2 linked regions of the Homo sapiens genome follow. The protein of the gene in region 2 interacts with the protein of the main gene of each other region in a pairwise test. Each region holds a gene or a part of one and is shown on either strand. Other genes may lie near its edges.

What was found. Proteins that work in one complex are often made in the same cells at the same time.
Region 1: the proteins of CDC7 (region 2) and GMEB2 interact in binary tests that used the Homo sapiens proteins (3 or more experiments, as listed by UniProt).

The regions. Positions count from the first base shown.
Region 1 is NC_000020.11:63,589,102-63,596,101, reverse strand, and holds part of GMEB2 (glucocorticoid modulatory element-binding protein 2), read left to right. Parts: intron 1-334; coding exon 335-492; intron 493-3,019; coding exon 3,020-3,091; intron 3,092-3,431; coding exon 3,432-3,569; intron 3,570-3,957; coding exon 3,958-4,080; intron 4,081-5,372; coding exon 5,373-6,013; 3' UTR 6,014-7,000. UniProt on the Homo sapiens protein: Trans-acting factor that binds to glucocorticoid modulatory elements (GME) present in the TAT (tyrosine aminotransferase) promoter and increases sensitivity to low concentrations of glucocorticoids. Also binds to the transferrin receptor promoter.
Region 2 is NC_000001.11:91,503,830-91,510,975, reverse strand, and holds part of CDC7 (cell division cycle 7-related protein kinase), read right to left. Parts: intron 3,123-7,146; coding exon 3,039-3,122; intron 2,715-3,038; coding exon 2,579-2,714; intron 1-2,578. UniProt on the Homo sapiens protein: Kinase involved in initiation of DNA replication. Phosphorylates critical substrates that regulate the G1/S phase transition and initiation of DNA replication, such as MCM proteins and CLASPIN.

The sequences.
Region 1 (7,000 bases), on a different chromosome or scaffold from region 2:
GTCACTCCCTTGGGGCTGGGGTAGTGGGACATCCCAGAAAGGCCCAGCCCCACAGACTCTGACGGGCACCTCCAGGACACCCACTGGCCAGCGCTTGCCCCCTTCCTGGGGACAGTGCCGTAGCGTGGGCCTGGGCCGGCTGCTTCTTCAGCAGCAGGGTCCTGCACGCCGAGCTCGCGCTAAGAGGGAAGTAGAGCCCACCCTGCCCTGTGGAGCTGCCAGCGCCTCTGCTAGGCCTGCCCCACGCAGGTGGATGGCCCAGGTCAGGGTGGGCGGGCCAGGTGCCTTCGGCTCTGGGGCCGACCTGGACGCTCCATGCCACTGTCTGTCACAGGAAGATCATGGACTCCGGGGAACTGGACTTCTACCAGCATGACAAGGTCTGCTCCAACACCTGCCGCAGCACAAAGATTGACCTCTCAGGAGCCCGTGTGTCCCTGAGCAGCCCCACGTCGGCCGAGTACATTCCCCTCACGCCCGCCGCAGCCGACGGTAGGTGCACAGGGCTGCTCGTCCTGACCCAGCCCCACCCTGGCCATGGCCACAGAGGGTGACATGCCCCTGGGTGGCCTCCTTGGCCCCAGGCGTTTGCTCACGCCAGGACTGCCGGTCTCCTGCCTGGGACCCTGAGTTGTCTGGGATCAGCCTCCTCCTGCCTCACAGAGGAGATCTGGCAGAATTGCTGCTTTCATTGACAAGGAAGATTGAAGCACTTTTCTTTTTAAGCCATTTTGGTTGTAATATAATAACTCACGTGTGGGGAAGGGTATAGCGAGTAACAGAGAGTGCCTGGGCGCCCACCCGGCCCCCTCCCTCCCACCCCCACGGCCCAGCCCCAAATCTGGACCCGCTTCCCTCCTGACCTGGCGGTTTACGGAACTGCGCGCCTGTGCTCCCGCCTTCCGTGCTGGGTGCCTTGCTGCAGGTATTCCTGCCACTTGGGTTTTTGGGTGACGCTTTAGATACTGTTCCACGTTGGTGTCTGTAGCTCTAAACTGTGGAGAGGTTGTTCCCTAGAATTCTTTCCAGCTTTATGAATAGAGAAATTTTTCTTAAAACTACAGTTAGGCTGGGTGTGGTGGCTCACACCTGTAACCCCAGCACTTTGGGAAGCCGAGGCGGGTGGATCACTTGAGGCCAGCCTGGCCAACAGGATGAAACCCTGTCTCTATTAAAAGTACAGAAGTTAGCCGGGTGTGGTGGTGCATGCCTGTAGTCCCAGCTACTCAGGAGGCTGAGGCAGGAGAATCGCTTGAACCCAGGAGGCGGAGGTTGCAGTGAGCTGAGATCGCTCCACTGCCCTCCAGCCTGGGCGACAGTGTGAGATTCCATCTCAAAACAAAAAAACTGAAGTTAAAGTGAAGTTAGGTCCTGGGCTCCCTGGTCACATCTCTGGGTGGTCTTTGGTGATGTGTTTCCAGCAATGCCACATGCATTGTCCCTAAGCTGCCACTCCGCATTGCTGGCCAGATTGTGTTCCTGTGTGCCCAGGGACGTCCTTGTTGTTGGCCCAGGTGGGACCCAGTTGAGTCCTGTCCTGTCCCGCTGGGTAGGAGAGTGAGGCCAGGGCACTAGGGAGGCCTCACCCTTCTCCTGGGCCCCCTTCCACGTCCTGCTGGGGCAGCCTGGCAGGTTCAGTGCTGAGTCCTGAGAAGCCCAGGACACTTGGGCTGCTGTGGTCAGAGGGGCTGGGTAGAGCCCAGCCTCCTGTCTGTCCTCCCCAGGGCCTCCCCAGCGGCTCCACCGCGTTAGTGTTGGCCCTGCCTGACCGCCTGCCAGGGAAGGAACTGGGCCTTCCACGCCCTGTAGTCAGTGCCTCACAGCTAGGCTGAGGCTCAGCTCTTCTGAAGATGATTTGGGTTCTTTAACCTGCAATCTCTGAGAACCATTGACTTGGCTACTGTGCAGTTAGTAAAAGATGCTGTGCCAGCCCCAACTCGGAAAAACGACTCATTCACGCCCCAAATAATTCCAGATGTGTAATATGAGTCATACTCACCACTGCCATGTCTTTGATGAATGTGGAAAAGGCCAGTATTCCCAAAACATTCAACTGCTTCCAGGTCGTTGGTGGTGGTGTTGGAGAAGGAGTCCTGCTCTGTCGCCCAGGCTGGAGTGCAGGGGCCTGATCTCGGCTCACTGCAACCTCTGCCTTCCGGGTTCTAGCGATTCTCCTGCCTCAGCCTCCCGAGTAGCTGGGATTACAGGCGCACGCCGCCACACCCGGTTGACTTTGTATTTTAGTAGAGACGGGGTTTTGCCGTGTTGCCCAGGCTGTTCTCGAACTCCTGACCTTAGGTGATCCACCCGCCTCAGTCTCCCAAAGTGCCTGGATTACAGGCGTGAGCCACCACATCCGGCCCCGGGTTTGTTTTTTAAGCCAGATCTGTGTATAAAGTCTCTATCAGCAACGCCCAAAATGGCCACATATGAACGACACGCCCAGTTGTGTTCTGCAGGCGCGAGAGAGGGACCCACAGGAAGAGCCAGGACGGTTTCTGTCTCTCAAAGCCCCACTTGTTCTGGTGTAGAAAAATGGAAACATGATAGATACTGAGATTTATGATGACTTCAATGAAGCATCACTTGAAGAGGCGAGGTGAGGGCGAGCCCCACGGGCGACAGACGCAGCCGCAGAGCTCTCGGTGGGAAAACAAGTCAAGCAGAAGGATCACCTTGTCTCGCTCCTGACGGTCCAGTCGAAAGTGCTTGTTGAGTACAATCGTAAATGGACAAGAGGAGGAAAGTGTTGAGGATTTGCTGAAATTGGGTGACGGGTTCAAGGGATTTGTTTCTGCGTTGTTTCTCCTTTGTATGTTTGACAACGTCTGTGATTAAAAATAGCCATAAAATATAAGGCAGGTACACTTTGGCTGTACTAGTGCGTATCCTGTGTTTGTCAGTTTTGTGAAGACAGATGGAAAGGTTCAGAAGGTGGTGTGAGGAGGGTGGACAGGGTATGTGGGGTGTGGGACTGTGGTCCAAACAGCACTCACCCGAGGTTCCCTTTCGGCTGCAGTGAATGGGTCTCCTGCGACCATCACCATAGAGACCTGTGAAGACCCTGGCGACTGGACCGCGGCCATTGGAGGTACGAGGTTCCTCCTTGTGGGCTTCTCACAAGCCCTGGCGGGGTGGTGGAGTCTCTGCCCACCTCGGGCCACACAGGGGCTCCAGGAGTCCAGGTGGGGCCGGCAGGGTCTTTGTGGAGAAAGGCCTGGTTCCAGCAGCATTGTCGTGGGCGCTCTGAGGCTGACCTGCTAGATTTTGGCACTGTGGATGTGTCTGGGCAGTGCAAGCCCAGCACAGTGCCAGGCGCTGCCGGCTCTGGCATGGTGTCCTCGTGGCTATGGTGATGTCCTTGTGGCTGTGGTGGCTGCCCCGTGTAGCAGCACTTTCCCTGCCCACTGAACCCACTCCTTCCCTCACAGATGACACATTTACCTTCTGGCGGGGGCTGAAGGACGCCGGCCTGCTGGACGAGGTCATCCAGGAGTTCCACCAGGAGCTGGTGGAGACCATGAGAGGCCTGCAGCAGCGGGTCCAGGACCCTCCCCTGCAGCTTCGAGGTGAGAAGCTGCATCTTCCCTCTTGCTGGCTACTCAGCCCAGGAGTCTCTGCAGGAGGTGAGGCCACTGGCCCTCCTGCCCCTAGGCCCTTCTGTGCTGCTGGGTTGGAGGCTGAATCTAGGCTTGGGACTCCTGCTGTGCTGAGGCTGAACTTGGTGGGAGGATCGCCTTGATGTATCTCAGTCTTCTCCCTCTGAACTGAGCTCCTGGCTGGCTGGGTTCCTGAGGAGCAGCCTCAGTGGTGGTGTTCTCACTCTCTAGGAAGAGCCCAGGCTCTCACCGAGCGTCCACGTGACTCTCTAGGAAGGTCCCGGGCTCTCACCGAGCGTCCGCGTGGCTCTCTAGGAAGGGCTTGGGCTCTCACTGAGTGTCCGCGTTACCCTTTAAGATGCTGTACTTCTCAACAACATCGTGCAGAACTTCGGCATGCTGGACCTGGTGAAGAAGGTGCTGGCCAGCCACAAGTGCCAGATGGACCGCTCGCGGGAGCAGTACGCCCGGGACCTGGCAGGTATGCTGAGACCACCCCCGTCCCGTCCCCTGGGCGGTAGGCTGAGGACCTGGAGCCCACGGGCTCACCCCACGGCTGTGCATCCACCTGCACTTCCTGGAGTCACCGCCACCACGGCGAGCTTCTCCGCACTGCTGTTGTGCGAGGAAAACAACCTGAAGCTTAAGTGAGGTAGTCAGACCTCTCCATTGCACTAAGCTTACATTTACCGGCATTTCTGTGATGAACCAAGTAGTTATTTAAGAGAAAATGACAGAGGCCAGGCGCGGTGGCTCACGCCTGTTATCCCAGCGCTTTGGGAGGCCGAGGCGGGCGGATCACTTCAGGCTAGGAGTTTGAGACCAGCCTGGCCAACGTGGTGAAACCCCATCTCTGCTGAAAAAAACAAAACAAAACTGGGCATGGTGGTGTGTGCCTGTAATCCCAGCTACTCGGGAGGCTGGCAGGCAATTGCTTGAGCCCAGGAGGTGGAAGTTGCAGGGAGCTGAGATCACACCACTGCACTCCAGTCTGGGTGACAGAGCGAGACCCTGTCTCAAAAAAAAACAATGACAGAGAATGGGAAGGGCTGGTCCTGACCCCGCTCAGAGCTCAAGCCCCTGATATTGGTGCGTTTCCTCCATGCTCCTCTTGGGGTCTGTGCTTACTGTGTGTTCACTGTGTGTGTGTTCAGTGTGTGTGTGTTCACTGCGTGTTCACTGTGTGTTCAATGTGTGTGTATTCAGTGTGTGTGTTCACTGTGTTCAGTGTGTGTGTATTCAGTGTGTGTGCACTGTGTGTTCACTCTTCACTTTGTGTGTTCACTGTTTGTGTTCATTGTGTGTGTGCACTCTGCATGTGTGTGTGCATGTTTATGTTTAAACACATGTGCCACATGTGCTGCTTTTCCTCCTCTCTCTCTTAATATGTCACAAGAGCAACTTTCCACGCTGGGTGTGTGAAAGCTCATGCGGGGATCTGAGACGGCATTTCCACGCTTGCACGCAGGCCCTGGGTCAGTGCAGGAGGGTCTGAGACGGGATTGCCACGCTTGCACACAGGCCCCGGGTCAGTGCAGACCCTGGGTCAGCACAGGCTGGTGTCTACCCCGAGGGCCATCTTGGGCCCCGTCTCCCACAGACCTCACCTTTGGCGGCCATGTGGTCATCTGGGTTTGTGGCATCAGGTGAGCAGACCTGGGTTGCCACTGACCCAGGGGCCACCCAGATGGTGTGGCGTGTCTGCCCCCATCCCCTGCATGCCGCCATCCATGCCCCCGTCCCCTGTGTGATGCCATCTGTACCTCCCTGCAGCCCTGGAGCAGCAGTGTGATGAGCATCGTCGCCGAGCCAAGGAGCTGAAGCACAAGTCCCAGCACCTCAGCAACGTGCTCATGACGCTGACGCCGGTCTCCCTGCCACCGCCTGTGAAGCGGCCCCGGCTTGCACGTGCCACATCAGGACCGGCCGCCATGGCCTCGCAGGTGCTCACCCAGTCTGCCCAGCTGGCGCTTGGCCCGGGCGTGCCCGTCCCCCAGCTGACCAGCGTGCCCCTTGGTAAAGTGGTGTCCACCCTGCCGTCCACCGTCCTGGGCAAGGGTTCCCTTCAGGCGCCCCCCGCCAGCTCCCCGGCCTCCCCGCTGCTCGGGGGATACACAGTCTTGGCCTCTTCCGGCTCCACCTACCCCAGCACAGTGGAGATCCACCCGGACGCGTCCAGCCTCACGGTCCTGAGCACGGCCGCCGTGCAGGACGGTAGCACGGTGTTCAAGGTGGTCAGCCCGCTACAGCTGCTCACGTTGCCTGGCCTGGGCCCCACCCTGCAGAACGTGGCCCAGGCCTCGCCTGGCTCCAGCACAATTGTGACAGTGCCCGCAGGGGCTGCCCCCGGGCCTGAGGAGCACACGGCCACCATTGAGGTGGCTGCCATGGCAGAGGACCACGAGCGGAAGTAGCCGACAGGAGGGCGAGGCCCCTGGGACGGACAGGGCTGGCTGTCTCTCAGCCGCGGCAGCAGGGAGCGGGCAGAGGCCGCAGGGCTGGCTCGGGCAGGTGGGTCACGTGGTCTGCAGAACCAAAGAGAGGAATCGCCAAAACAAATCACGAGAAGAGAGAAGGGGACAGAACAGCGAGAGCAACCTGGAAAATCGGTCTTCAGGTCCCACGTTTCCTCCCCCTTTTTTCTTGGGAAATATATTTTTCCATCTGTTGCTTATTAATACTGTTTACACATTGGGCCTTGATCAGGAGCCAGGTGGGCGGGGGCTAGGGGGAGCCTGGGTGCAGCAGAGACAGAGGAAGCAGAGCCAGGTGCCGAGCGCGACCCTGCAGGTGCTGGACGCGGTGCAGCAGGTCACGAGGCCCCCATGTCTGCACCCAGCCAGGTCCCTGGGGACGTTACTAACTCATGACTTGGGAGCTAAGCCCAAGTGTGAAACCTCTGGATCCTATGGATTTGGTTTCTTCCCACAGTTTTCTGTAGGTTTAGTGTGGCTGGCGCCCCGTTCTCCTCCAGTTGGGAACATGCACCCGGAGCTTGGGGTGCAGATCCTGATGGGTGCCTGCCTCCCCCGCCCCCAGCCGGTGCTCAGGTGGCCCAGGGGCCGCACAGACGAGGCGTGGTCCAGGCATTGTTGCACATGTACTGAGGGTGTTTTTAAGTGAATTGCTTAGTAGGCTTCTAGGAAGAGTCAGATTTATAGCATTTTCAACCAAAATAATGGTGAGTGCCTAGGCTTCCCGAGTTAGCTCTTTGGGTGGCCCCTGAGCCCCTGTGAGTGCACTTGACCGGGTGCGGAGGTCCTGGGCAGCCTGTCCCTGAGCCGGCCCCTCCCAGGGGTCTGAGATCCATGAGGTGTGTCCCTAGGGCTTCAGTCCTGGGGCAGAGGCATAAACAGAACCAGTCACTATGGAGGTCGAGGATTCCCATGTGGGCCCTTCAG
Region 2 (7,146 bases):
AGTGATACCTACAGACATGAAAATTAATAGCGAGAAAAGAAAACTGAGCTTGGAAGAAGCCAAGTTAGAGAGCCAAATAAGAAAGGAATTTTGAAGGAAGAGTTATTAGCATGGAAGTCAAAGAGAATAACAACTGAGGGAAGGCTTTTAGTTAGGCAAAGAATAATTAACTGGTAATTTTTAAGACAGCAATTTAAGTGGAAAGGAAGAAACAAAACAGAAGGAAGGAAAATATAACACAATGGAAGCTGAGCCTGAAGACAATTTGCCTGACTGCATTGTAAGATCAGATGAAGGCATTTTTAGCATGTACTTTTTTAAGCACAGAAAAAGAAAAAGTGGTAGAGGGAGACAGTTAAAAATATAGAAAAAGAAATGATCATATTTAGGGTACAAGAATGTATGCAAGCATTCTTTATAGAGGCCATCTCATTTTCTTGTCTTCTATAATACACAGAAGGCTGAAACAAACAGGCTTATTCATTCATTCAGTATTTAGTTGGCACTGTTATTTGCTGTTAGGGATTATAGACATTAGTGATGCAATAGTGAATAAAATTTACAGAATTTCTGTCCTCATGGAGTTTACTATCTAGTGGACAATACAGATAATAACAAGGTAACTTATAATGACAGAATACGATAAGGGCTTTGAAAGAAATCTAAAGATGCTATGACAATAAAAAAAAATAGGAGAATCTAATTTAATTCAGAGAAGACATCTTTCAAGCAATGTCACTCTTTTTTTTTTTTCTCAGAGGCAGGGTCTTGTTTTGTTGACCAGGCTGGATGGAGTGCAATGGAGTGATCGCAGGTCATTACAGCCTCAAACTCCTGGGCTCAAGCGATCCTCCTACCTCAGCCTCCCAAGTAGCTGGGACTACAGATGTGTGCCACCTTGCCTGGATAATTTTTAAGTTTTTTGTAAAGATGGGTTCTTGCTAGGTTGCCCAGGCAGGTCTCAAACTCCTGGCCTCAAGCAATCCTCCCAAAGTGCTGGGATTACAAGCATGAACTACTGCGTCCAGTTTCACTCTTGCTCAGATCAGAAGATGAAGGGTCAGCAAGCAATGACTGGGAGAGGTCTTCCTGAATGGGGAAACAGTCTGGGCAGTGGCCCTGAGGTAAGAAAGCTCTTGAGACAAATTTGATAAACTAAAGAAATGGAGCACAGTGAGGGAGGTGGGAAGATAGGCATGAGAAGGTTGAATTTTTTTTTCAAAGTACATAGGGAAACCACTGAAAGATTTTAAGTGGTGGAACTAATGACCCAATTTAAGTTATATACATATATATTTTATATTTTAAAGATCATTCTGGCTGCTGTGTAAAGACAGAATTAAGGGGAGAAGGAAGAAGCAGGCTACAGTCGTAGTCTAGGCTTCATCTGAGGTAGTGGCAGAGAAGACAGAAAGACATGGATGAACTTCTAGATATACTTTAGAGCCAAAATGGCTAGGACTTAGTGATTAATGTGGTTTAGGAGAGAAATAGAGAAAATGAGGATGATTTCTAGGTTTCTGGCCCAAACAAGTGTGTAGATGGGCCATTTGCAGAGACGGGTGGATAAGAACATTTGTTGTGGTGTTTTTTTTTTTTTTTTTGGTATGTTAAGGTTTAGGTTTGTCTTTTAGGTTTGAGATATTTATCAGGCACCAAGTGGAAATGTTAAATAGGCAGGTGGATATACACAAACCTGTAGTTAAGATAAAAGGTCTGAGATTAACTATATACTTTTGGGAATCATTACTTTAGATCATGTGGAAATGGAGGACACTAAGAATACAGAGAAACCTAAGAGCAAGCACGAGGAACTCCAATATTTAGGGGTCAGATAGAAGTGGAAGAGCTAGCAAAGACACTGAAAATGAAAGGCCAAATGAGGGAAGAAGAAAACAAGGAGGGTGTGGCAGGACAGAAGTCAAGACAAGGGTTCACGTCAATTGTGTTAAATGATGCCTAGAGTAATGATTGACTCTATAGTTTCCAGTTTAGCATAGAGAAGAACAGCCGCAATAGGTATTTAGTGAAAGAGAGGTGTGGAATGAAAACAATGTATGCAGATAATTTTTGAGAAGTCTGGCTGTAAGGGGGAACAAAGAAATGATGGAGCAGGTGGAAGAAGGAGGGCAGTTTAGGAGGGTAAGATTCTAAATCATGTCCATATGTTGACAGAAATGACCTAGCAGAGAGAAACCATACCAGATGATTCTGTTATTCTAAATAAAATATTAGATGAGGTCGTCAATAGCTGGGGAAATGTGAAATGTGAGTTCCCTACATTTACAAAATAATGTAAACCATGAAAGCCAAGGTTTATGATTTGGCAGGAAGGTTACAAAAAGCAGTGATAAAAGACAGGAAATCAGGTCGAGCCTCAAGGGAAATCCAATCTAAAAGAATTACTATAAATTTAACTAACTATTGCAAGGTTAGAAGGAAAGTGCTAGCAAATTGCAAACACTTGACTGAAAAATGTATTTAATTCACATATAATCCCCTCATCCCTGCTAAATATCTACTTTAAAATCTTATAAATTATATACAAGTTCAATTAAAATATGTTTAAATTGCCTACCCAGCCACTGTTAGGCACTGAAGTTCAGCTGCAATTCTTATAGGATGACTTGTTGGAATCAAGTGTTTTAGAGCAATTTTCTCTTCAGGTCCTACTTGTAACTGTGCTGTGGCCAAATAAACAGAGCTGAAAGTGCCTGTAAAACAATTTATTAAATTTTTCAATATCTGGTTTTTAAAAATGTTAATGAAACAATTCTAAGATAGATTGTAAAAACTGTTTCAATGGCATAATACATTAAAACAGGACTTCATTTTACAGTAAATATTTATTATTTATTCTTTCTTTAAGGTTGAAAAAGAAAAGCTGTTACCATAATTAGTAATAAAACTATGGTCTTAATAGTCTAAAAAGTGGTATATTTTTCAATAAGAAATAGTAATGAAAACCAAGACTAAAAAAGGAAAATAGAATGGAAAAAAGACCTCGTAAAAATAGTAAAAGCATATCCCCAGATTACCTTCTCCAATTTTGTCCTCAATCTTAAACACATTACTAAGCTGTGGTACAGCTTCATAAAGCTTCTCAATATCTTTTTTAACACCTTTCAAGGAAACAAAAATTTAGAGTTTTAATCAATGACAGTATATTTTACAGTTTCTTAAAATTTAAAAAGCTCAATGAAATAAATTATAAAATATGAGTAATTAATTATACATAAGTTTTAATAACATTGTGATAAGATTAAAACCCATCAAGTTGCTATAACTCACACACACCTCTTGAACAGACAAAAATGACAGTCCCAGAATTAAATACACCAAATTTCTACTATACTGGAATTATATACTAAGAGATACATTGTTACTGTAGAGATTACAACATGAAAAAGCACCAAATTTTTAAAATAACTAAACAATTTGTGCTGTGATCACTAGATGGCATGACAAGGACACATTGCGATGTTCTTGAAAACTATTTCCCGTAAAGATACAAAATCTTAAAGGCTTGGTAAAATTTTATGTATTAAATATTCACACTATATTTTCAGAGAGAAGGCCTACTAAAGCTCTCAAGCATGTAAAAAAGTATTTTTAAAAATTTGTCCCAATTGCCAGTAGTATCCTCTATCCTTGACTGCAGATAAATTGCTACTTTTAAATAAGTATCAGTTCTTTATAAAAATGTACATAGTTAAAACAAGGGGAGGCAATAATACAAAACCCAGTAAACTACTGGATACAGAAGAGAACTAGATAAGTCTTCAGATTTTATTACAGTATCTAGGCTCTACTAGCCCTATATAGCATAAGTTTAAGACATTTTCAAAGCACCGGCACATGCAGTATCTTTTGAGGTCTTCCTAACAGTACTGTGAACTTGGCAGAGCAGGAATGATTATCCTGATTTTTCAGATAAGGAAACTCAATTCAGGGAGGTTAAATCATTTGCCCAATTTCACAGAGGTGTTGCTGATTATATATATTTTCTAATTTTCTTTCTTTTTTGAGATGGAGTCTCACTCTGTTGCCCAGGTTGGAGTGCAGTGATGTAATCTCCACTCACTGCAACCTCTGCCTCCTGCGTTCAAGAGATTCTCATGCCTCAGCCTCATGGGCAGCTGGAATTACAGGCACGCAACACCACGCCCAGCTAATTTTTGTGTTTTTAGTAGAGACGGGGTTTCACCACAATGGCCAGGCTGGTCTTGAACTCCTGACCTCAAGTGATCTGCCCACCTTGGCCTCCCAAAGTGCTGGGATTACAGGTGTGAGCCGCCGCACCTGGCTAGAACTAATTCATTTAAATAAACGCTGTCTTAAAAAATGCTCAGCAATGGGTATGTAAAAAAAACCAATAAATTTGATGCAGCCACTAAGAGCTTGGTCTAGTAAAGGAAACATGTTATCATTCTTAATACAAGGTGACACCTGTAATAAAAGAATGTATATACTACTAGGTTGGGGAGGATTTCTGAAGGTGATAGGAAGCCTTCAGTTGACAGCTAAGTTTTGTTCTGAAGCATTCACCAAGTAGTGAAAGTGGAAGAAAACATTTTAGGAAAAATTAACTACGTCTGTAAAGACAGGAACAAGAAAAAAAAAAGGCTTGGATGATTAGGGTAGGGGGAGGGCTGAGAGACAATGAAATACAATGTGGCCTGGGGCGGTGGCTCAGGCCTGTAATCCCAGCACTTTAGGAGACCAAGGCAAGAAGACTGCTTGAGGCCAGGTGTTTGAGACCCTATCTCTTAAAAAAGCTAAAAAACAAACAAACAAACAAAAATTAGCTGGGCTTTGTAACACGGGCCTGTAGTCTCAGCTACAGAGACTGAGGCAGAAGGATACCTTGAGCCCAGGAGTTTGAGGTTACTAAACTATGATCGTGCCACTGTACTCCAGCCTGGGTGATGGAAGAGGGAGACCCTGTCTCAATAATAATAACAATAATAACAATAATAGAAATAGAATGTGGCTGAGGAAGACAAGAGAGAATGCACATGAAAGCTATAGGAAGTTTTTAAGCAGAAAAATGACAAGTGGAGAACAGATGTGAAAGGGAGGAGAAACATTAAGGGTACTTCCACACCACTACTCACTTATTATGCATCTACTCCTCTTTACAAAAATCAAAATGTTTATTAAGGTTTCCTGTCACTTCAGAACAACTTCAACAATTTTAAACAACAGTAAAACTTCCTGGCAACCAAAGTGAATGCAATATCCTCAAATTCTGAAGTGGGAAATGACAGCAGAAAGCAGAAAAGTGCATTCATGTCAAAAGCTGGAAAACAGTACTAAAGACAGACAAATGAAACAGACTTTGAGGACTGGAGGAGGATCCCGAAAATCTATAATATGCTAAAAATTATTTAAATGCCTCTATTTTATACATGAAGGTCTAGGCTTCTATTTTGACATTTTAAGTCACTTTTGTTTTCTGCTGCATAATATATCCAAGTTGGTTTTAATATACCAATAGTCTCCTTAACTACACTCCTTGCCAGCCTGGAGTCTATCTGTAACATAGTAGCCAGTCGGCTTGCAACATAGCAAACAGAGTTTAAACAGAGTATTCTGATAAAGCTAAGTCACCTTGTCACTATTGTGCTCAAAACCTCTAATGGTTTCACATCTCACTCCATTAGAAAGCCTCTTTACATCTCTCTTTGACTTCATTCCAATTACCTTCCCCATTCTAGCCACAATGACCTCCTTGCTATTCTTGAATGCTAGGCACACTCCCATCTCAGGGTCTTTGTACTTGCCGTTTCAGGGTCTTTGTACTTGCCGTTTCCTCTGTTTGGAATGCTCTTCCCCAAATATCTGCACAGGTCACTCCTTCACCACCTTGAAGTCTTAGCTCAAATGTTACAGAAGGCTATGAGCAACCATACTCACTAAAATTACAATCTCCTTCCCCAATACTTCCTATCTCCCCTTCCCTTTTACATTTTCTTAGTAACATTAATCACTTTTGAGCACAGTATTTACTTCTTTTGTTTACTCTCTGTCTATTGTCTAACTACCACAGTGTTAATTTCTGTTTTATGGTTTGATTTATCCCTAGCACCTAAAAAAGTACATGTATATAACAGACAATAAATATTCATCACATAAATGAAACGTTTTCAATATCTTGTCATGGATTAAAACTGACACTCTAGGCATATAGTCATGGTTATTCTGGGGCTTCATGTACTCTCTGGTTTATACCTCCTGGAACTAGGGGATAATACATAATATAAGCCCAAACTGGGACACTCTTGAGTGAAAAGGCAGCAGGAATAATAATTACATTGTGACAATAGCCGTAAGCTAGATCTGTCCCAGGCAAACAAAGATGGTACCCATAGCCCATTTTAGAAGCATGGCTAAGGGTGTCATTGTAGCAAACAGAATGAAGCAAGCCTTCCTTCCAGTAGAGTTCACCAGTATGGAGGAGACTTTCAATATAGAGTTTATACATCATTCTTTCACTGAACAGATCTTTCTCACTTATTAAAACTTGGCATATAGTAGATACTTAAAAAAAAATAAAAGCTTACTGGCCAGGCATGGTGGCTCACACCTGTAATCCCAGTGCATTGGGAGGCCAAGATAGGAGGGGATCACTTGAGGCCAGGAGTTTGAGACCAGCCTGGGCAACATAGCAAGATCCTGTTTCTAAAAAAAATATTTAAAATTAGCTGAGTGTAGCGGCACATGCCTGTAATCCAAGCTACTCAGGAGGCTGAGGGGGTAGGATTGCTTGAGTGCAGGAGTTAAGGCTGCAGTGAGCTGTAATTGCACCACTGCACTCCAGTGACAGTGGTGTGACAGAGAGACCATGTCTCAAAAAAAAAAAAAAAAGCTTGCCAAAACAGTGAAAGAATAAACATTTGACCAATATTATGCCAGATAGTTTGTGCATTACAGCATTTTTCTTAATAGGAAAAAATAGAAACAATCTATAGGGTCAATAGTAAAAGGTGATTGAATATATTATAATATAATATGCAATGGACCTTAAATCCAGTTGTAGAATATTTACTACATGAGCAATATTCAAGATATATATTAAAAAAAATGGAGATCAGAAATAAGATCCCATATTCTGGTTCTCTTTTCAAAAACAAAAACAAAACA